Linked DNA regions of Homo sapiens: all the other regions are reported to be linked to region 1. The links are microRNA targets in miRTarBase. Many come from high-throughput screens and were not tested one by one. Region 1 holds a microRNA gene; each other region holds the end of a gene's coding sequence. Distances are from middle to middle.
What was found. The annotated mature microRNA hsa-miR-548c-3p reads CAAAAAUCUCAAUUACUUUUGC and lies in region 1 at 3,273-3,294, shown strand. An mRNA with a match to its seed (bases 2 to 7 or 8) in the 3' UTR can be bound and repressed. Matches are read on the target gene's strand: a 7mer-m8 pairs with bases 2 to 8, a 7mer-A1 pairs with bases 2 to 7 and ends in A, and an 8mer does both.

Region 1 (5,154 bases):
GGGGTTGTGAAACTTTTGTGTGGGGAACTTCCCTTTTTTTTTTCCACATGAGCCAATAAGATAAAACTGACCTAATGGCATTCTCGGTGCAACTCTGCCTTCAGTTTAAGGACAGAAGAGGGCTCATGTTTCATAGAGTATTAAAGGAGCAAGCTTAATATTTTGCATTTTGTGGACTGTAATTGCTAACTGCTGCTACATGATTCAGTCAGCTAAGAATAATTTACTAATTATATATTGCCTCACTTGGTTCTTTTTCCAGATGCTAAACAAGGTGAGATAATTAGAGGAGGAAAAAGGGTGAGTTTGGGAATTGGAGACCAGAAGGATGGATTTAGAAGATCTTGGAGTTAACGGACTTAGAATATAGTCAGCAAAGAGTTCACTTAAAATTAGTGCAGGTTGCCAGGCGTGGTGGCTCACGCCTGTAATCCCAGCACATTGGGAGGCCAAGGCGGGCGGATCACGAGGTCGGGAGTTCAAGACTAACCTGGCCAATATAGTGAAACCCCGTCTCTACTAAAAATACAAAAATTAGGCAGGCATGGTGGTGCATGCCTGTACTCCCAGCTACTCGGTAGGCTGAGACAGGAGAATCGCTTGAACCTGGGAGGTGGAGGTTGTGGTGAGCCGAGATTGCGCCACTGCACTCCAGCTTGGGCAACAGAGTGAGACTTTATATCAAAAAAAAAAAAAAAAGAAATTAGTGCAGGTTGACTGTGTGTGTGTGTGTGTGTGTGTAGTTTTCTGAATTCATTTTTCAAGTATTGAATATTCACAATGATGCTAGACTAAGTGCTAGAGATTTGGTGGTGAACGAAACAGATTGAAACCTGCCTTCATGGGGGGCGTATATAGGTTCGTCTGACTAGTCTAGATAAGTGAATTTGTGTAGTAATTGTTTTTTTGTAACTGGCTTAGTTTACTTAGCTTGATGTCATCAAGATTTATTCATGTTGGAGTATGTGTCAGAATTTCCTTCCTTTTAAAGGCTGAATAATATATCCATTGTATGTATATATCACTTTTTGTTTATCCATTGATTCTTCCATAGACATTAGGATTGCTTCCACCTTTTGGCTCATGTGAATAATGATGCTGTGAACAGGGGTGTACAAATATCTCTTAAAGACCCCTCTTAAAACTTTTTGCGATATATACCCATAAGTAACAGTTGCTATAGAATCATATGGTAATTCTGTTTTTAATTTTTTGAGGAATACTATACTGACAAATTTGAATCCTTATTTAAACCCAGGATTATGGAATACTGCTGCTTGATTTCAGCTGTCATTTTGTTGTCTACATTGTATTTTATTGAATTGGCGTTATTCCCAAATATTGGAAAATGTGGAGGTTTCTAATTTTTGCTACTGTAAATAGCACTAATAAATACCTTGAGCATGAAACCTTTTCCATTATGGATTAATTTTATAGGATAGTTGTACAAAAATGGAATTTTACTAATTATGAGGGTGTGACTTTTTATGATTCTAGTTATATATTGCCAATTTATGTCTATTTTTAAGTTTCATTACACCCTTACTTCCATTGGATATAGTCATTAAAATAGAGAAAAAAAACTTCAATAACTAAAGGCACCTTATTGCTATTTAATTTACATTCCTTTATTATTATTTTTTAAATTATTATTTTTTGAGGTGGAGTTTTACTCGTCACCCAGGCTGGAGTGTAATGGCGCGATCTTGGCTTACTGCAACCTCCGCCTCCCAGGTTCAAGAGATTCTCCTGCCTCAGCCTCCCAAGTAGCTGGGATTACAGGCGCCTGCCACTACGCCCTGCTAATTTTTGTATTTTTAGTAGAGATGGGGTTTCACCATGTTGGCCAGGCTGGTCTCAAACTCCTGACCTCAGGTGGTCCACCCACCTCGGCCTCCCAAAGTGCTGAGATTACAGACGTGAGGCACTGCGCCTGGCACATTCCTTTAATTAACTGTGAATTTAATACTTTTTAAATACTTCTGAGTAAATCTCCCTTGTGTGAGAATTGTCCATGCATGACCTTTGCCCATTTGTCTATTAGGTAGGCAAAATCTTGAGAGAGCACTGCTTGAGTCTGTGCATTTTTAGCTTGGTAGATGGTTCTGCTTTTTTGAGGTCAGCTGAACTTCAGGGTTTTTTTTGACTTACACTGTTTGTACCAAAAGGATATTACATATTCAGGCTTTCATTTTTTTAAGATGGAGTTTCGGTCATGTTGCCCAGGCTGGAGAGCAATGGTGCGAACTTGGCTCACTGCAACCTCCGCCTCCCAGGTTCAAGTGATTCTCCTGCTTCATCCTCCCAAGTAGCTGGGATTATGGGCATGCGCCACTATGCGCGGCTAATTTTTGTATTTTTAGTAGAGACAGGATTGATCAGGCTGGATGGTCTCGAACTCCTGATCTCCGGTAATCTACCCGCCTGGGCCTCCCAAAGTGCTGGGATTATAGGCGTGAGCCACCGTGCCCGGCCCAGGCATTTTGAAATACTTCAGAATGTGTTTCAGGCTGACATCACTGAAACTCAGAAAAATACTTATTACTCCTGTAGTTACAACATGGGAAAGGCATTGCTAAGAAAGCATCACCATAAATAAACCCGTGGGATTCAGAAGGTGGGGAGTTGGGTGATGTGTTTTCTACTAACCATGTGTTTTAAAAAAAAGGGTGACTAGAAGTTCCTGTTTATCTTTGAATTTCAATAAATTTAGGGCTTGTTTTCCAACCACTCTGGTAGAATTTAGAAGAACCTAACTTATTTATTTTTATCTTTTTGACAGTCTTGCTCTGTCACCAGGCTGGAGTGCAGTGGCGCGATCTTGGCTCACTGCAATCTCTGCCTCCCAGATTCAAGCTATTTTCCTGCCTCAGCCTCCTGAGTAGTTGGGATTACAGGCATGCACCACCATGTCCAGCTATTTTTTTTTTTTTTTTTGTATTTTTAGTAGAGTCAGGGTTTCACCATGTTGGTCAGGCTGGTGTCAAACTCCTGAGCTCGTTATCCGCCTGCCTTGGCCTCCCAAAGTGTTGGGATTACAGGTGTGAGCCACCGTGCCTGGCCAGTCCTAACTTATTTTGTAAGTATACTAGGTATTGAAAAAAGGATGGTAGGACAAACTGCTGGAAACCTTACCCACCAAAGATAATTTATACTGTTTACTTATAGGCTTACTGTCTTTTGTTGAAAAATTGCGATGAGAAAGGAATCGGCATTGGCATCTATTAGGTTGGTGCAAAAGTAATTGCGGTTTTTGCCATTACTTTCAGTAGCAAAAATCTCAATTACTTTTGCACCAACTTAATACTTTCAGGCTTGTTGAAGCCTAAGTAGAAAATTGTTGCTTAATCTCTTTTATTCTGATTAACTCCTACTTTAAATTTTTTCTTTCAGAATCTTTTTATCAAGTGAATCTTTTAAAAAGATGTGAAGAGTTACTTCTGACTTTATGATTGATAGATTATGAGCCCTCCTTAATCCCCAATTTCTTAATTCAAACAAGCTTACTGTGAAAATTTTCTTTTTTCTTTCTTTTTTTTTTTGAGATGGAGTCTTGCTCTGTTGCCCAGGCTGTAGTACAGTGGCACGATCTTGGCTCACTGCAACCTCCATCTCCTGAGTTCAAGTGATTCTTCAGTCTCAGCCTCCCCAGTAGCTGGGAATACAGGCGCATACCACCATGCCCAGCTAATTTTTGTATTTTTAGTAGAGACGGGGTTTCACCATGTTGGTCAGGCTGGTCTCGAACCCCTGACCTCAGGTGATCCGCCTGCCTCGGCCTCCCTGAGTGCTGAGATTATAAGCATGAGCCACCGCGCCCGGCCACCGTGAAAATTTTCTACAAATGCTTGTTTCGAGGAATCTTTTTTGATATTTTGCCAGCAAAGTCATAGGAGCAAAATTTTTTTAAATGAAAATAGAAAACAACATAGTTAAATATATCACGTAGGAGGAAAAGTACCAGTACCAAAATTAACTTTAGCATTTCTTAGTGTTTTACAGTTAACAGGGCATTCCAAGGGAATTAAAATTCAGTTGATTTTATTGGACTTTAATTTCAGAGGAACTCTGAGATGAGAAATTTAACTAGCACGTTTATCCGTTTAGGCCTTAAGCAGATGCAGGTTTCATGACATGCCAGAGGTAAATTTAGGGGTACTTGACTGTAGTGAGTAATTTCCCAGCTATGGGAAAATGTAAATATTATGTAGATGGTATAAAGAAACAATATTACGTTTGTCCATTTAAGGTCTGTTTCTGTTTGTTCAGACAGGCTTGTGGATTGCTTTTCTTGCCAGTGTTCCTTTAGGTGGAAGGTACAGCCCTTTCAGATATTTCAGAATTTTATTTTCTTTTATTTTTTTGAGATGGAGTCTCACTCTGTCACCCAGGCTGGAGTGCAGTGGCACGATCTCGGCTCACTGCAGCTTCTGCTTCCCAGGTTCAAGAAATTCTCATGCCTCAGCTTCCCGAGTAGCTGGGATTGCCAGCACCCGCCACCATGCCTGGCTAATTTTTATTTTTATTTTTTTAGTAGAGAGAGAGTTTCACCGTGTTGGCCAGACTGGCCTCAAACTTCTGGCCTCAACCGATCTGCCCGCCTCTGCCTCCCAAAGTGTTGGGATTACAGGGGTGAGCCACCATGTCCGGCCATATTTCTGTTTTAGAATTGCTTTCTTGCTTTTCCTCTGACCAGATTTGGTCACGTGAAACTGTCAATTAGCATGAATGAGGTGCTGCTGCCATGCAGGGGTTTGATCCTTGGCTGTCATGTTGATGGTCTCTGTATCCAAATTAGTATTTGTGAAATTTGGGGGAAGAGAATTTGGGCTTATTGTGTAGCGGAACGAGTACGTTTCATAAAGGCAAACCTAGCACCGATATCAACAAATCCACTTACAATCCATTCCTAAAGGAGGAAGCTCTGTTACAGTTTTAAAATTAACATTACAATGCATCTTGCTTGTTTGAGGTGAGGGCTTAAAACTCAGTAATGAAAAAGAGGGAGAACTATAGGCTAAAAGGGTGTGTGTTCTTAATTGATTAATTGCAAGCAGCTATGTAGGGCACCCTGTGTTTAAATCAGTGCTAGCTGTATTATCTTGAGCAAGTCATTGTACCTCTTTGTTTTTTTAATTTATTTTTATTTTTTAC
Region 2 (5,154 bases), not on the chromosome of region 1:
GTGTGCAAATGTCATGGTGACAGCCAGGTAGAAGATGCATTTGCATAATAAAAGGTTAGGGTGGGAGGGCCAGTCTTTTCACCGGCTATGTAAGTAGTATACCTGGTTAAACCAATCCCCGGGCCCTATGTATATCAATCACCGCCTCCTCAAGCCTCTGTATGAAATCAATCAAATCTTGCCCCAAACCCAGAAAACCCTCTCTTGAGCAACTGTCTTTCTCAACATGAGGAAGCTTTCTCACTCTCTTCTTTATCTATTAAACTTTCCACTCCTAAACCCACTCCTCATGTGTGTCTGTGTCCTGAATTCTTTCTTGGCATCAGACAATGAACCATGGGTATTTCCCCAGAAAATGGAGCTTTTTCAATATTATTCACAGAGAAAGAATCCTCCACATGTCCACTTCTTTCTTTCACATTTGGTCCAGGAGATGAAAAAGAATAGGTTCTGCATGAAGTCAAAGAGATAGATCACAGCAAAACATGTGGGGGTAGCCATGTTTATACCTACACATCAATTGGTTACCACAGAGAGAGAGAGACCATGCTTCTTTTTTCTGTTTATACAACATCCAAAAGAGGCCAAAGGGGTTTAATTCAATCTCATCTCAATACTGTGGCATCAGTAATCTGAGACCAAGAAACTTTTAAATGCACCCACCTGAGATGACAGCCCTTTGTAAAGAAGAAAATTAATTATATAGCAGCATGGTATAGTGAGAGAAATTTTTTTTGAGCCAGATAAAATGGAAACTGGGTTTTATCTCTTACTTGTGGGATGACCTTGGGCAATTTACCAAATTCCTCATCTGTATGTGGGAGTTATCCTTCTTGTTCATATAACAGGGAGAATGAGAGTCATTTGATGAGTTGTACCCATCAGTGAGATGGGACACATATAGCACCTACACAAATAGTACCTACACACACTCAATGATAATTAGTTCCTTTCTTTTTTCCCATCACCCAATGTCATTTTTTTGTTTTAATCCAAGATTTTGGGGCTTTCTTCTGAGGTAAAAATTATTATTATTATTTTTTGAGATAGAGTCTTGCTCTGTTGTCTAGGCTGGAGTGCAGTGGCGCAATTTCAGCTCACTGCAACCTCCACCTCCCGGGTACAAGCAATTCTCCTGCTTCAGCCTCCCAGGTAGCTGGGATTACAGGCGCCCACCACCATGCCCAGCTAATTTTTGTATTTTTAGTAGAGACGGGGTTTCACCATGTTGCCCAGGCTGGTCTTGAACTCCTGACCTCATGATCCACCCACCTTGGCCTCCTAAAGTGCTAGGATTACAGGTGTGAGCCACTGCGCCTGGTTGGTAAATTTTTTTTCTTGTATTCTGAATATAGGAATTCAATCAGAGATGTTAAAACAAAGAAAGATGGTACTCTCTGGCATGTTTCAATCTTATTCTATTGCATGAGTGCCTGCTAGAAATAATTACAAGCCATTCATGAAATCAAGGTTGGTTGGGAATATTGGACTCCTATATACTGTAAATGGTATCTTTGCCCCTCTGCAGTCCCAAACTAATACTAGAAGTAAGGTGTTTTAATATCTAAAAGAATGTTTCCAAATTAGTGTGGCGAAGCTAATAATACATTGTGATCATGGCACATGGTGGTTTGCTGTGAATGACAGCTGAGGGGATGTCAACAAGCAGTATTAAGCAAATTTGATGCTGGTGATAGAACAAGATTGTACCAACAACAACTGTGTCAGCTTACAAGAGAGTAGGGCAGAAGCGCTGGGTAACTGTTGAAAAGGAGAAAGAAATTGTGCAAACTGAAAAGTCTCAGAAGCACTTAGATGGCTTGGTAAGTTGGTTAGTGCTGTCAAATATTATCAAGACCACCCTTGTATTCAAGGTAACAAGATGCATAGACTTTTTTTTTTTTTTTTTAAAGTAAAGGCAATGACCTAAGCTAATCCAGGGAAAAATCTGTAGCTCCTGTAACACAGCCTCCTATTGAAGAATTCAGTGCTGATTAGGACCTGTCTCATCCAAAGGTTTATCACTAGAATTACCAGAAGACCGAGTAGCATGTATACCTTTATTCTAATCTCCTGAAAAAATTTAGAAGGCTATGCTTAAGAAAATGTTGGTAGTAGATGTAATAATAAATCAATACACTCAAGTTTAGGCCCATATAGATTCCCAACTAGTGATCAGTTCCTTGCTTCTTAGAGTAACTGAGCAAATATATGATGAAAAGCAATGTATAAAATTCTATCCAAGAACAAATTTGTGATGTTCAAAAACAATCCTTTGTTATATTGACAATATAGATTTAAATATAGCTTTATATAATAAGTTTGTCAGGGTAAAGTCAGAAAGGATGTGAACTGAGAGGACTGCAGAAGTTTCTGTTAAGGAAAAAAATCCAACTTCCTTTAGTTGATATACCCAAAGATAAGTGTATTCAAAATGCAATTCATTTTTTTTCAGAACAGAGTTGACTTCTTTGTGGAAACTATTTTCGGATAAAAAGAGAGCCTATATACCCGGGGGAAAAAAACCTCTCAACATTTTTTAGTTACATGAAGAATTACATGAGGCACCTAGCATGTTCAGTTTGTCAGTAACTCAATTAGTCTTTTGACAACTGACTTGCGTCCCCCCATCCCCCTTGCCCCATATGGCTCTGTTTTGAAAAGAATTAGAGTCATGCATCATTTAATAACACAAATACATTCTGAGAAATGTGTCATTAGGCAATTTCATCATTGTGTGAATATCAGAGTGTACTTACACAAACCTAGATGGTGTAGGTAGCCTACTACACACCTAGGCTATATGGAATCCCTGTTGCTCCTAGGTTACAAACTTGTGCATGTTACTGTATTGAACACTGTAGGCTATTGTAACATCATGGTGAGTATTTGTGTGTCTAAACATAGAAAAGCACACTAAAGATACCATATTATTAATATAATCTTTTGGGACCAATGTCAAATATGTGGTTCATTGTTGACTAAAACATCATTATGTGTCATATAACTGTATCTCATTTCCTAGTCATTCTCTTACTCATCTGCAGTTTTCAATTATATGAAGAAAACATCTTAAATATGTTACAAATGTGCAGAAATAGTTCTTTTTCCCATTCTTAGTTATAGTTTTGCTTTTACGTAACTCATTGGGAGTCAAAATTAAATGTTAAACTAGGAGTCAGAATGAAAGATACCTAGTTTCACAATCATCTCAACTGAACAAAAGTTTAAATTTAAAAAAAGAAAAAACATATTAACAAGAATATAGTATGGTTGTCCTCCAGGGACCCAATCCCAGCAAAGAATTGTGTATCTCTTTCTAAGGAATTCTGTGAAGCAGATTTGTTCGGGCCAGTGACCTGAGGCATTAGAATGAGCCCTGTCTCTGGAAACCTGAATTCTAATCTTGATTCTTTGACTAACTTGCCTGGGTTTTAAGATTTTTAGGTAATTTATCCTCTCAGCATCAGTTTTCTTACCAAAATGAATGCAAAGGCTATCCTGATTTCTAAGGTGTCTTCTGGTATGCCAAAGTATTGGTATGCTTAAGATTAGAGGCTTTATTTGGATGAAATCAGTATTTAACTTTTCCCAAATTTGTCAGTGTTCTCACTGGGTTCACACTGAGGGCTTTACTCTTTTTTCCTTCATAGAGATACTAGATCCCCTTCTTTCTTTGGCCAAGTCCAGCGGAATTTTTTCTTAACTCTCTTCCTAAGACTTGTTTACCTCATTCCTTTCCCCTTTCATGATGTTTCCTTCACTTCATTTTCCCTTTGAAATATTTTAGAACCCATTTTTCGCATATTTCATCCCTGTGAATGCTACTATATCTAAAGTAGTATTTTATTATTTTTATATAAAAGAAACTTTCAGCAGCTCTATTTCTGCTTTACTCATTTCAACTCCTCTTACTTGGCCCTGCACTAGAGTGCATTCAATGCTTAAATGCATTTTTGATTACTACAGTGTGTTATAATCCAGCCTTTTTTCATTGCCTTAAAAAAAATCCACATGAATCTAGGAAGTTATTGGTATCATAAATCTTTAAAACTGTAGTTTTAAAAGCACAAAATGAACTGAAATAGTGTTCATACCTAGAATTAAATAAGCATTTGAAGGCCTCTTCTTCCTCACTTAAATTTTTTTCCACTGATTCAGATTGGGAAAAACCATTATGTAATTTAGATCAAAATGCTGCCATCAAGCAGGGTTACCAGCAGTAGATCAATACTATTTCAAACTGTTAGGTAAGCATGCATGTAGTCTGGAGGGATTTCACAAACGTGACAGCTGTGGGCATCTGAGGTCTTCTAGCCATAAGAACTCAAGAAATTTTTGTTTGATGAAAAAATCCCCAAATAAAGGACTAAGTTAAGTTCTCATTGATCATTCCTACTTGTGGGCCAGAAGAGCTGATTATTACCAAACATAGTCATTGGGAATATCCTCATGCTTTCTCAAGTCCTTCTGTCTTCATTTCCAGTTACCTGTTAGCTTTCACAGGGAAATTTGCATGATGAGGTCTAGCATAGGGTGGAAAGCAGGCAATTCAAAGGCCACCCAGTTCCGAAGAAGGACTTCAGTCCAATGTTGGACTGTTTTCCTGAGTCATCTTTTGGTATTCCAAATATTGTGATTTATAAAAAATCTTCCATTCAAATGTTATTAAAATTGAAAATTTAAACTACCGCTGAGAAATATAGTTTCCAAGTTCAGTGTTATTTTCACAGTATTTAATGGGTTTACTATATAAAAACATCAGTTACACTTCAGGCTTCATAATATTTTTCAAATTTCCACTTTTGATATGGCTTCACTGGGTCACAGGCAGCTACTTTCAGGATCTTTTGAGAAAAATTTCCTTCCAAGCATAATAATTGCTGATTGTTTTCAAAAACAATGTGATTCACCTGGAGAGAAAGAAGAGCTGGGAATGAGCCACAGGCTGAATTTGATAACTGCAATATGAAGAAATGAAAATCAATTAAAAAAATGGACAGGCAGTTATATTTTTGATTTTTAAGAATTCTTCTGAACTAAATTATTAACATAAACACAGACTTTGAAAAGTATTAAATTTGTCTCTGTCTCAGACTAAGTAATCATCCTCCACCAAGCTATAAGACTTTTAAGTCCTCAGGAGGCAAAAGA
Region 3 (5,154 bases), 57 Mb from region 1:
AGATGTGCACCACCACGCCCGGCTTATTTTTGTATTATTAGTAGAGATGGAGTTTTCACCATGTTGGCCAGGCTAGTCTCGAACTCCTGACCTCAGCTGATCCTCTCACCTCAGCCTCCCAAATTGTTGAGATTATAGGCATAAGCCACCGCACCCAGCCAATTTTTTTGTATTTTTAGTAGAGACAGGGTTTTACCATGATGTCCAGGCTGGTCTCCAACTCCTGACCTCAGATGATCCACCCACCTTGGACTCCCAACACACCCAGCCAGGATGCAGTTATTTTTACAAGGGGCTGGCTTCATTTCCTTTGGGTATATACCCAGAATTGGAATTGCTGGATTATACAGTAGTTCTGTTTTTAATTTTTTGAGGAATCTCCATACTGCTTTCCATAATGACTGCACCAACTTAGCTTCCCATCAATGTAAAAACTTTCTCTTTTCTCCACATCCTCACCAACACGTGTTCTGGGTGACTGGGAAGTCCAAGATCAAGGCTCCAGCAAATTCACTGTCTGGGGAGGGCATGCTTCCTGGTTCACAGGTGACTAAAATCGGGGAGAGAGCTCTACACTGTCTCTTTTATAAGTACACTAATCTCATTTATAAGATGCCACTCTTACTGCCTAATCACCTCCCAAAGGCCCTATCTCCTATTATCATCACAATGGGGGTTAGGAAATTTTTTTTTAGATGGAGTCTAGCTCTGTCGTCCAAACTGGAGTGCAGTGGCTCGATCTTGGCTCACTGCAACCTCCGCTTCCTGGGTTCAAGCCATTCTCCTCCTCAGCCTCTGGAGTAGCTGGCATTACAGGCTCCCGCCACCACACCCGGCTAATTTTTGTATGTTTATTAGAGACAGGGTTTCACCATATTGGCCAGGCTGGTCTCTTACTCCTGACCTCGGGGATCCATCTACCTCGGCCTCCCTAAGTGGTGGGATTACAGCCGTGAGCCATCGTGCCCGGCTGGAGCGGTTTTATTCACAGTTGCTAAAATTTACCAAGATGTCCTTCAGTAGGGTGAATGGATAAACTGTGGTCCATCTACACAATGAAATATTAGTAAGTGATCAAAAGAAATGAGCCGGCCAGGCGCAGTGGCTCACGCCTGTTATCCCAACACTTTGGGAGGCCGAGGGGGGTGGATCACCTGAGGTCAGGAGTTGGAGACCAGCCTGACCAACATGGAGAAAACCCATCTCTACTAAAAATAACTAAATTACCCAGGTGTGGTGGCTCATGCCTATAATCCCAGCTACTCGGGAGGCTGAGGTATGAGAATCGCTTGAACCTGGGAGGCAGAGGTTGCAGCGAGCCGAGATTGCGCCATTGCACTCCAGCCTGGTCAACAAGAGCAAAACTCCATCTAAAAAAAAAAAAAAAACTGAGATTAGGAAATAGAAATTCTTTTCTCCAAATTTCTCTCACTCCGTGATATAGGGAATGGGAGATAAACTTACCAAAGTTGGAAATGTCCTCTACTTAAGAGCACTAGTTCAATAAACTGGCTCCCCCAGGTTTACTGAGGGCTGATAAATTCACCTGGTTCTTTTACTTATCTAGAAACACAGTACAGATATTAAAATACCTAAATCCCAGTGGCCGCTTTGAACATAGTGCTACCCTACATATTACTGGAAAGAGGAAAATTCAGGACTGGATTAGAGAAATGGCTAATGAAAGATGGGCTGATGGCTAATCTTAAATTCCACTCTCCCTGTCTTCCTTAGCTTCACGGTCATTTTCTGTGATCCAAAAATGTGGTAAAAAGACTGCATTTTATCTAACTACCAAAGATGTATAGGCAGGAAGCCTGTAAGAATGGCTGATGTGTACAGTAACACACTTATAGACTAGCGCCTGGGCTTTCTCATCTTCTAACTAGTGTTCTTTTTTTGAGTTGGAGAGTGAAAGTCTCAAAAGTTGGGGATAGAAACTGGAGCTCAAAAATTACCACCACAGGCTGGGTGTGGTGGCTCATGCCTGTAATCTCAGCACTTTGGGAGGCTGAGGTGGGCGGATCACCTGAGGTCAGGAGTTGGAGACCAGCTTGGCCAACATGGTAAAACACCATCTCTACTAAAAATACAATATTGGTGAGGCGTGGTGGCTCACCTGAGGTTGGGAGTTCGAGACCAGCCTGACCAACACAGAGAAACTTCATCTCTACTAAAAATATAGAATTAGCCAGGCATGGTGGCATATGCCTGTAATCCCAGCTACTGGGGAGGTTGAGGCAGGAGAATTGCATGAACCTGGGAGGCGGAGGGTGCAGAGAGCTGAGATCACACCATTGCACTCCAGCCTGAGCAACAAGAGGGAAACTCCATCTCAAAAAAAAAGAAAAATATTAAATTCCCCATGAAATAATGTATCAAACCCTACTAACTTATACACTTTATTTTAATTTAATTAATTCATTTGTTTATTTATTTATTTTGAGATGGAGTTTTGCTGTGTCACCCAGGCTGGATTGCAGTGGTGCCATCTCAGCTTACTGCAACCTCTGCCTCCTGGGTTCAAGCGATTCTCCTGCCTCAGCCTCCCAAGTAGCTGGGACTATAGGCGCCTGCCACCATGCTTGGCTAATTTTTTTGAATTTTTAGTAGAGATTGGGTTTCACCATGTTGGCCAGGCTGGTTTTGAACTCCTGACTTCAAGTGATCCACCGGCCTCAGCCTCCCAAAGTGCTAGGATTACAGGCATGAGCCACAGCGCCAGGCCAATAAATTTTTATTCCATATTTATTCAATAATATTTATTGAGTACCTACTGTATATCAGAAACTAGTTGAAATACATGTGATTATGACAATGAATGAGATCAACAAGTTTCCAACACTAAGAGAGCTCTCATTATGGTGGGGGTAGAGAGATGAAGCAATATATAAATATAGTAATTTTAGATGATGCTGAGTGCTATAAAGTAAATAAAAATAAATAATATGACCAGATGACTGAGTATGTGTAGGGCTACTTCAGATAGGTAGTCACAGAAAACATTTTTGAATAGGTGACATTAGAAGTGAGATCTGAATGTTGCAAAGGAGGCAGCCACTCTCAAATCTGCAAGCAGACCATTGTAAGCTGTGGGAACAGCAAGAGCATAAGTCTGGAGATGGTAAGAAACTTACTGTCTCTGAGAAACAAAAGAAGGTGTGTTTGGCGTGTAACGAGCAAGTCAGGGAATGTGGTCAGATGAGATTGGAGACTTTAGCAGGGACCAGATCTTTTAGGTTTTTACAGGCCATAGTCAGGAATCATAATTTTATCCTAAGTGTGATGGCAAGCTATGCAGAGTATATCAGTGTTCTTAATAATAAACAACAAAATTAGTTTAAGGTGAAAAGCATTTAAAGAATATTAGAAGCCGGGCACAGTGGCCCATGCCTATAATTCCAACAGTTTGTGAGGCAGAGGTGAGACAATTGGTAGAGTCCAGGTGTTCAAGATCAGCCTGGGCAACATGATGAAACCCAGTCTCTACAAAAAATACAAAGATTGGTCCAGGCGTGGTGGCTTATGCCTGTAATCCCAGCACTTTGGGAGGCCGAGGCAGGCAGATCACCTGAGGTCAGGAGTTCGAGACCAGCCTGACCAACATGGAGAAACCCTGTCTCTACTAAAAATACAAAAGTAGCCAGGCGTGGTGGCGCATGCCTGTAATCCCAGCTACTCCGGAGGCTGAGGCAGGAGAATCACTTGAACCCGGGAGGCGGAGGCTGTGGTGAGCCAAGATCGCACCATTGCACTCCAGTCTGGGCAACAAGAGGGAAACTCCATCTCAAAAAGAAAAAAAATCTAAATGACCTTAGTCCTCTGACTCAAGTCACACATCAGAAAACAGTCACCCTTGCCTGGGCACTGTAGCTCACGCCTATAATCCCAGCTACTTGGGAGGCTGAGGCAGGAGAATCACTTTAACCCAGGCAGAGGTTGCGTGAGCCGAGACTGCACCACTGCACTCCAGCCTGGGCAACAGAGCAAGATCCTATCACAAAAACAACAACAACAACAAATTGCCCTTCCAGGAGTATAATCACATTTGTAGAGAAAAGTCATGTTTGGAGGGGATGTTTAGAAATATATTGACAAATTGCAGAAGGCACTGAACCCGTTAGCTTCTATAATGGATTTCCCTTTCAGTCTCAAAACATTTCCACAGGTTGGTAATTTCTTCATTGATTTTTTTATTTTCTTTTTCTTTTTTTTTTTTTTGAGACAGAGTTTCGCTCATGTTGCCCAGACTGGAATGCAATTGTGCGACCTTGACTCACTGCAACCTCCACTTCCCAGGTACAAGCGATTCTCCTGTCTCAGCCTCCCAAGTAGCTTGGATTACAGGCATACACCACCACGCCCGGCTAATTTTTTTGTATTTAGTAGAGACAGGGTTTCATCATGTTAGTCAGGCTGGTCTCGAACTCCTGACCTCAGGTAACCCACCCGTCTTGGCTTCCCAAAGTGCTGGGATTACAGGCGTGCTCCACTGTGCCCGGCCTTGACTCGATTTTTTTTCTTAAATAAAATCAATTAACATCCATTATAAAAACTTTAAATCTACAGTAGGGTAAAAATAAAACACATAAAAACTCCTTTGCATACCCCTCATTTAGTTCTACTCCACGGAATCAACGACTGTTAATGTTTTCTTGTTTATCCTTTCAGAACTCCATTTATTGGTGAGAATGGTGTCATGTAAAATGTCTTAGCCAGTGCGATGGCTCATGCTTGTAATCACAGCATTTCTGGAGGCCAAAATAGGAAGATCACTTGAGGGCAGGAGTTCGAGACCAGCCTTGGCAACACAGAGATCTCCATCTGTTTAAAAAAAAAAAAAAAAAAAAGAGTTTCGCAACACAGTCTATATATTTATTTATTTTAAATTTTTTTTTGAGATGGAGTTTCACTCTTGTCACCCAAGCTGGAGTGCAATGGCACAATCTCGGCTGACTGCAACCTCCATCTCCCAGGTCAAGCAATTCTCCTGCCTCAGCCTCCCGAGTAGCTGGGATTACAGGCACCTGCCACCAAGCCTGGCTTTTTTTTTTTTTTTTTTTTTTTTTTTTTTTTTGTATTTTTAGTAGAGATGGAGTTTCACCATGTTAGTCAGGCTGGTCCCAAACTCCTGACCTCAGGTGATCCACCTGC
Region 4 (5,125 bases), not on the chromosome of region 1:
TACTGGCAAGGATGTGGAATACTCTGACCCCCCCAACACACATTGCTGTTGGGAATGTAAAATTTCAGCAAATTCTGAAAACAGTTTAGCAGTTTCTTATACAAACACACTTACTATAATACAACAACCTTAATCTTAGGTATTTACCCAAGACAAATGAAAACATATAACCACACAAAGACTTATATACATATGTTCATAGCAGCTTTATTCATAACAGCAAAAAAACTGAAAACAACTCAAATGTCCATCAACTGGTAAATGAATTAACAAACTGTGGTATAACTATACAATGCAAATACTACTGAATAGAAGATAAAACAGGAACTACCTACTAATACATGTAACAATATCAGTATCTCAAAAGTATTACATTAAGTGAAAGAAGCTGGACACAAAAGACTGGTTATTTGAAATTCTAGAAAAGGCAAAACGAAAAGTGACAAAACGCAGATCAATGGGTTTCGAGGGGATAGAAGTGGGGGTGAGGGATTGACTACAAAGGGGTAAAAGGGAAATTTTTAGGTGATACAAATGTTCTATATCAGCTGGGTGTGGTGGTTCACGCCTGTAATCCCAGCACTTTGGGAGGCCGAGGCAGGTGGATCATGAGGTCAGGAGTTCGAGACCAGCCTGGCCAACATGGTGAAACCCCATCTCTACTAAAAATACAAAAGTTAGCCGGGCATGGCGGCGCGTGCCTGTAATCCCAGCTACTCAGGAGGCTGAGGCCAGAGAATTGCTTGAACCCGGGCAGACGAAGGTTGCAGTGAGCCGAGATTGCGCCATTGCATTCCAGCCTGGGTGACAGTGCGAAACTCCATCTCTGGGGAAAAAAAAGTTCTGTATCAAGATTGTGGTGGTGGTAATTACACTACTATATGTTTGACAAAATTCACTGAATCATATACTTAAATTGGTTAATTTTATTGTATATAATATCTTAAAATTTATTATATATAAAATAATACCTAAAGTTTATATATATCAAAATGGAACAATGGTAACATGATTTACTTTGCTACATTTCCAAATATTGTCCAGGGAGGATGTATTATTTTAAAATCAGAACAAAAATCCCATTTAAAAGCAATTAGCATATTAAAAATATATAAGTATACATGATCACAATGACTTATAAATAAATACAAACTCAGAGCTAAGAACAGAAGGAAATTTACCACTATTTATTTTGGGTAAAGGAGTACTAAAATTCCTCCTAAAGCTTTTGTATAATTCATAACTTTTAGGGGAGGACTTTGTTTTAAAAATGCAGTAATAGAGAATGCCTTGCAACAATTGGTGTAAGTTTATCTAGAGCTTTTGCCCAAATTAATTAATTGGGAAGGCATCACATGTGCTCACTGTTCAACGATGCTTTTGAAAGATTATTCAGTAGTTTAATTTCTTTTGTTTTTTTCCTGAAAGTTTCTGTTTCAGGTTTTTTTTTTAAGAGTTATTCTCTGCATTACTCAAAATGATGAATCAAACAGATTTTCCTTCTTAATTTAATGTCTTATTCTTTAAAATCCACTAAAGAACAAACAGTTCTTAGACCTGGAATGTATTTTCTACTCAGTAATGCCCTATTTTGTAAACAAAAGAAACAGAATGTAAGTAGCACCTTGGATTAAAATGTCCAACCTAATCAGCTGTGCAGAAGACATAAATTGGAGGTAACAATAACTGCTTTAATCTCTGTGAATGCCTCATCAATTAAATAATTCCTCAGGAACATTTTCCCCATTCATATGGGAATTACATACTGGTTTGCAAACACAGAACCAACTAATAATCTTTTTTACAGAATCTCTAAATCCTTTCTTCCAAGACCATTTTGGCCAACTGACTGGATTTAAACTGGATAATAAAAGTAAGGGAAAAAAAAGCACAAACAGAAACTCTTACAGAGCAAGAAAGACCAGATGGTCACCTCGACGTTAGAGGCAAAACCAGTATGCTCTAATATTGTGACATGACTCTAATGCCAGCATTCAATGACAGACAGATCACTTTTAGAAGAACAGCCAAGATAAAGGATTTGAGACATAACAGGTAACACACATTCCCAGGATTGGGAGCAGTACCTGAACAAGTGCTGTTAATGGATCACTGTAGCATTATCAATACATCCCAGTCATTGTATGATACTATTAACTCTTTCGGTTTCCTTGCATTTATTGGAAGGCACATTAAAATTTGCATTCTTTGGAGTGCAGCAAGATGCTTTTCCTGTTTCTTTCTGCAGCATGTCCAGCACTTTTACACCTTCTGTCAGACAAATAGGTTAAAACTCTTACATTGCAAAATCAAGAGTATAATACTCAGTGATGGATAGTGTATGTTTCTGATTAATACCCTTTTTGCCAAGTTAAAAATACCCTACTAGGGACCGGGTGCAGTGGCTCATACCTGTAATGTCAGCACTTTGGGAAGCCAAGGCGGGCAGACTGCTTGAGCACAGGAGTTTTGAGACCAGCCTGGGCAACATGGTGAAACGGTGTCTCTACAAAAAATACAGAAATTAGCTGGGTGTGGTGATGCATGCCTATAGTCCCAGCTATTTGGGAGGCTGAGGCAGAAGGATCACTTGAACCCAGGAAGTCGAGGCTGCAGTGAACCAAGATCACACCACTGCACTCCAGCCTGGGTGACAGGGCAAGACACTGTCTCCAAAAAACAAAAAACAAAACAAAACAAAACAAAAAACCAACAAAAAACTAACAATATCCTATTAAAAGTGGCTTAAACAATTGAAGGGTTTTTATTATATCAACATAAGTCCACATGTAAAGCAGCTCTAGAATGGGTTAATTCTGAAGCTTACCGGCATTATCAAAGGCTCTGGTGAGTTCTATCTTTCCACTGAGCTAACCTCAGTCTGAGTCCGTGTCTCCTTGTGATCATTAGTTGGCTGCAGCAGTTCCAACTATCAGAGTCAGAAAAGACAATGTCCAGAGAGAGCAGGATTTCCTCCTCTAAGCCTATTAGTGAGTAAAACATTTTTCAGACACCCCCTTGAAGATCACTTCTCAGCTGCCATTCACTAGGACATGTTTATGTACTCATGCCTTATCAATTACTTATAAGGGGGATAAGACCACATGTGATTCATTTAGAACAGCAGGATTCACCCTTAGGGAAAGGGTCCAACATACCTGGACACAGAGCTGCACAGAAGGGAACACCAGAATAAGCAAGCAAGAAGGGAGGGACAAAATAGTTGCTGGCCGGCAACCAACAGTATTTATCACAATCTGATAGGGCTGAAAATGTACAGCATGTGTTGTTACACTATTCCTTGGCGAAGAAGATAAGTAGCAATAAAATAAAAAGTGTAATATAATAGATTGTTAGACATTTACGAAAATATTTCAGGGACAAATAACAACTAAGATTCAGAGAGTACAGGCACTAGCCTATGTGCTTTACATGTATTAATGTACTTCATCCTCACAACTGTTACATGTACAGTTGTCCCTCAGTATCTGTGGGGGACTGGTTTCCAACCCCAACCCCTCAAATACCTAAATCCATGGATGCTCAAGTCTTTTATAATAAAATGGCGTAGTATTTGCATGTTACCTAGGCACAACCTCCCATATTCTTTAAGTCATCTCTAGATTATTTATAATACCTAATACAATGTAAATACTATATAAATAGCTGTTAAACTGTATTGTTTAGGGAATGACAAGGAAAAAAGTCTGCACATGTTCAGTATAGACACAACCATCCTTTTTTTCCCCAAATATCTTCTATCCACAGTTGTTTGAATCCACAGATGTGGAATGCATGGATATGAAGGGCCAACTGTATCTTACAAGATAAGGAAAAAGGAGAGAAGCCAAGACACTGACTAACTGACAGAGCTGAGACTGGAACTGAGGTAATCAGGCTCCAGACCGTGCTCTCAATTGCTGTATTATGAGGCACAGGGTGATATAAAAAGGGCACGTGTTTTAAAAATAGTAAAAATATCAAATGAACCAAGCCATAGGTGAAAATGTAGAAACCAATCCAAGAGGTTGGCTGAGATTTAACATTGTACATTTTATTAAATACTGGACTTTATTACAACAAATTAATTTACTTCCGATAGAAGTTTCATTTTAAAAAATGTGGTTGTGTTCAAATTCTTAATTGACACTTGTTTTGGGGTAAACATCCTATTTTTACTGGTGGTATCATCAATCATTATGAGCAGAAAGATTAATTTTGTATAACAGAACAAAGGAATTTCTCAAGTGGTACAATACTCAATATATATAAAGGGAATATACTCCCAAAGAGTGGGCATGACCACAGCAGAGTATATGATCAGAGAACATATTGCTTTTATGGTATATATATATATATATATATATCTCTACATATAACATCAAGTCATGCACATTAAGTCTTTACTACCTACTGAAGGCTTCTACCTTACACATGAAAATTGTTCATGTCCCAGGGTTTGGCATCCAGCCAAAATTTAAACAATGATGAAGAATGGCTGTCAAACTGGCTTTTCAGACCACCCCTGAAAAGCTGTCAGCTGTAATATCCATCCTGGAATCGTGGCGGAAAGTTCCTGGGAGTTGCCTTTTCCTGTGTTTTGATCAAGTCTATAATAGCTGACAGTACTGCACAGTCTCTGGATTTAGTGTCATTCCAGTCTACAGGATGAGGACTTTCAATCTTCTCTTGCAGAAGAATATCTAGTTCCTTTCTTAATTCCTAAGGTTGGAAAAATTATACATGTTCAACAAAGGCAGATATATTACCAAATAACATAATAAATGAAACTAATTTACCTGATACAAGGAGTTTCACAAGCGATGGCTCAAAAGCTAAAACATTTAGTGAGCAATCAACTAAAGTGTGGTTATGAGTGAATAACTAAAGTGCAGTTAAAATTCACACTGCAATCACACTGAGCCATTTAGAATGGCTGGTCTGTTACCACCTCAAAACACAATTCAGAAAAACCAGGAATCATTTTTTCAAAATTATTTGCTCTGCTGAAATAGAGCAAGAAATGTTAATCTATTTAACAGTTAGAACAAAACCACATGACCACATGCTGACTTACATGTAGATTTAAGATAATCACATAAAGTCAGTCACCTTAACAAGATGG

Region 2: the mRNA of GALNT5 is a reported target of hsa-miR-548c-3p. Seed matches in the 3' UTR shown: 7mer-m8 at 4,646-4,652, 7mer-m8 at 4,350-4,356, 7mer-m8 at 4,005-4,011, 7mer-m8 at 2,385-2,391, 7mer-m8 at 1,943-1,949 and 7mer-A1 at 1,020-1,026.
Region 3: the mRNA of NANOGNB is a reported target of hsa-miR-548c-3p. Seed matches in the 3' UTR shown: 7mer-A1 at 4,575-4,581.
Region 4: miRTarBase lists DHX36 as a target of hsa-miR-548c-3p. Seed matches in the 3' UTR shown: 7mer-A1 at 3,973-3,979, 7mer-A1 at 3,964-3,970, 7mer-A1 at 2,373-2,379, 7mer-A1 at 1,266-1,272, 7mer-A1 at 1,103-1,109 and 7mer-m8 at 1,073-1,079.

What each region holds. Positions count from the first base shown.
Region 1 is chr12:64,619,297-64,624,450 of GRCh38, forward strand. MIR548C (microRNA 548c) reads left to right here and starts at 3,213; the gene lies at 3,213-3,309. All of the region lies in intron 1 of RASSF3 (Ras association domain family member 3), which reads left to right. It overlaps MIR548Z (microRNA 548z), which reads right to left and starts at 3,309; the gene lies at 3,213-3,309. RefSeq lists an enhancer at 2,135-2,294.
Region 2 is chr2:157,310,967-157,316,120 of GRCh38, reverse strand. It overlaps GALNT5 (polypeptide N-acetylgalactosaminyltransferase 5), which reads right to left. Exons shown (of 10, transcript NM_014568.3): 10 at 1-4,913. The coding sequence ends at 4,773. Among named protein-coding and RNA genes, the nearest start is that of ERMN, 12 kb to the left of the region's middle.
Region 3 is chr12:7,773,470-7,778,623 of GRCh38, reverse strand. It overlaps NANOGNB (NANOG neighbor homeobox), which reads right to left. Exons shown (of 4, transcript NM_001145465.1): 4 at 4,503-4,824. The coding sequence ends at 4,773. Among named protein-coding and RNA genes, the nearest start is that of NANOGNB, 11 kb to the right of the region's middle.
Region 4 is chr3:154,271,635-154,276,759 of GRCh38, forward strand. It overlaps DHX36 (DEAH-box helicase 36), which reads right to left. Exons shown (of 25, transcript NM_020865.3): 24 at 5,113-5,125; 25 at 912-4,722. The coding sequence ends at 4,537. Among named protein-coding and RNA genes, the nearest start is that of DHX36, 50 kb to the right of the region's middle.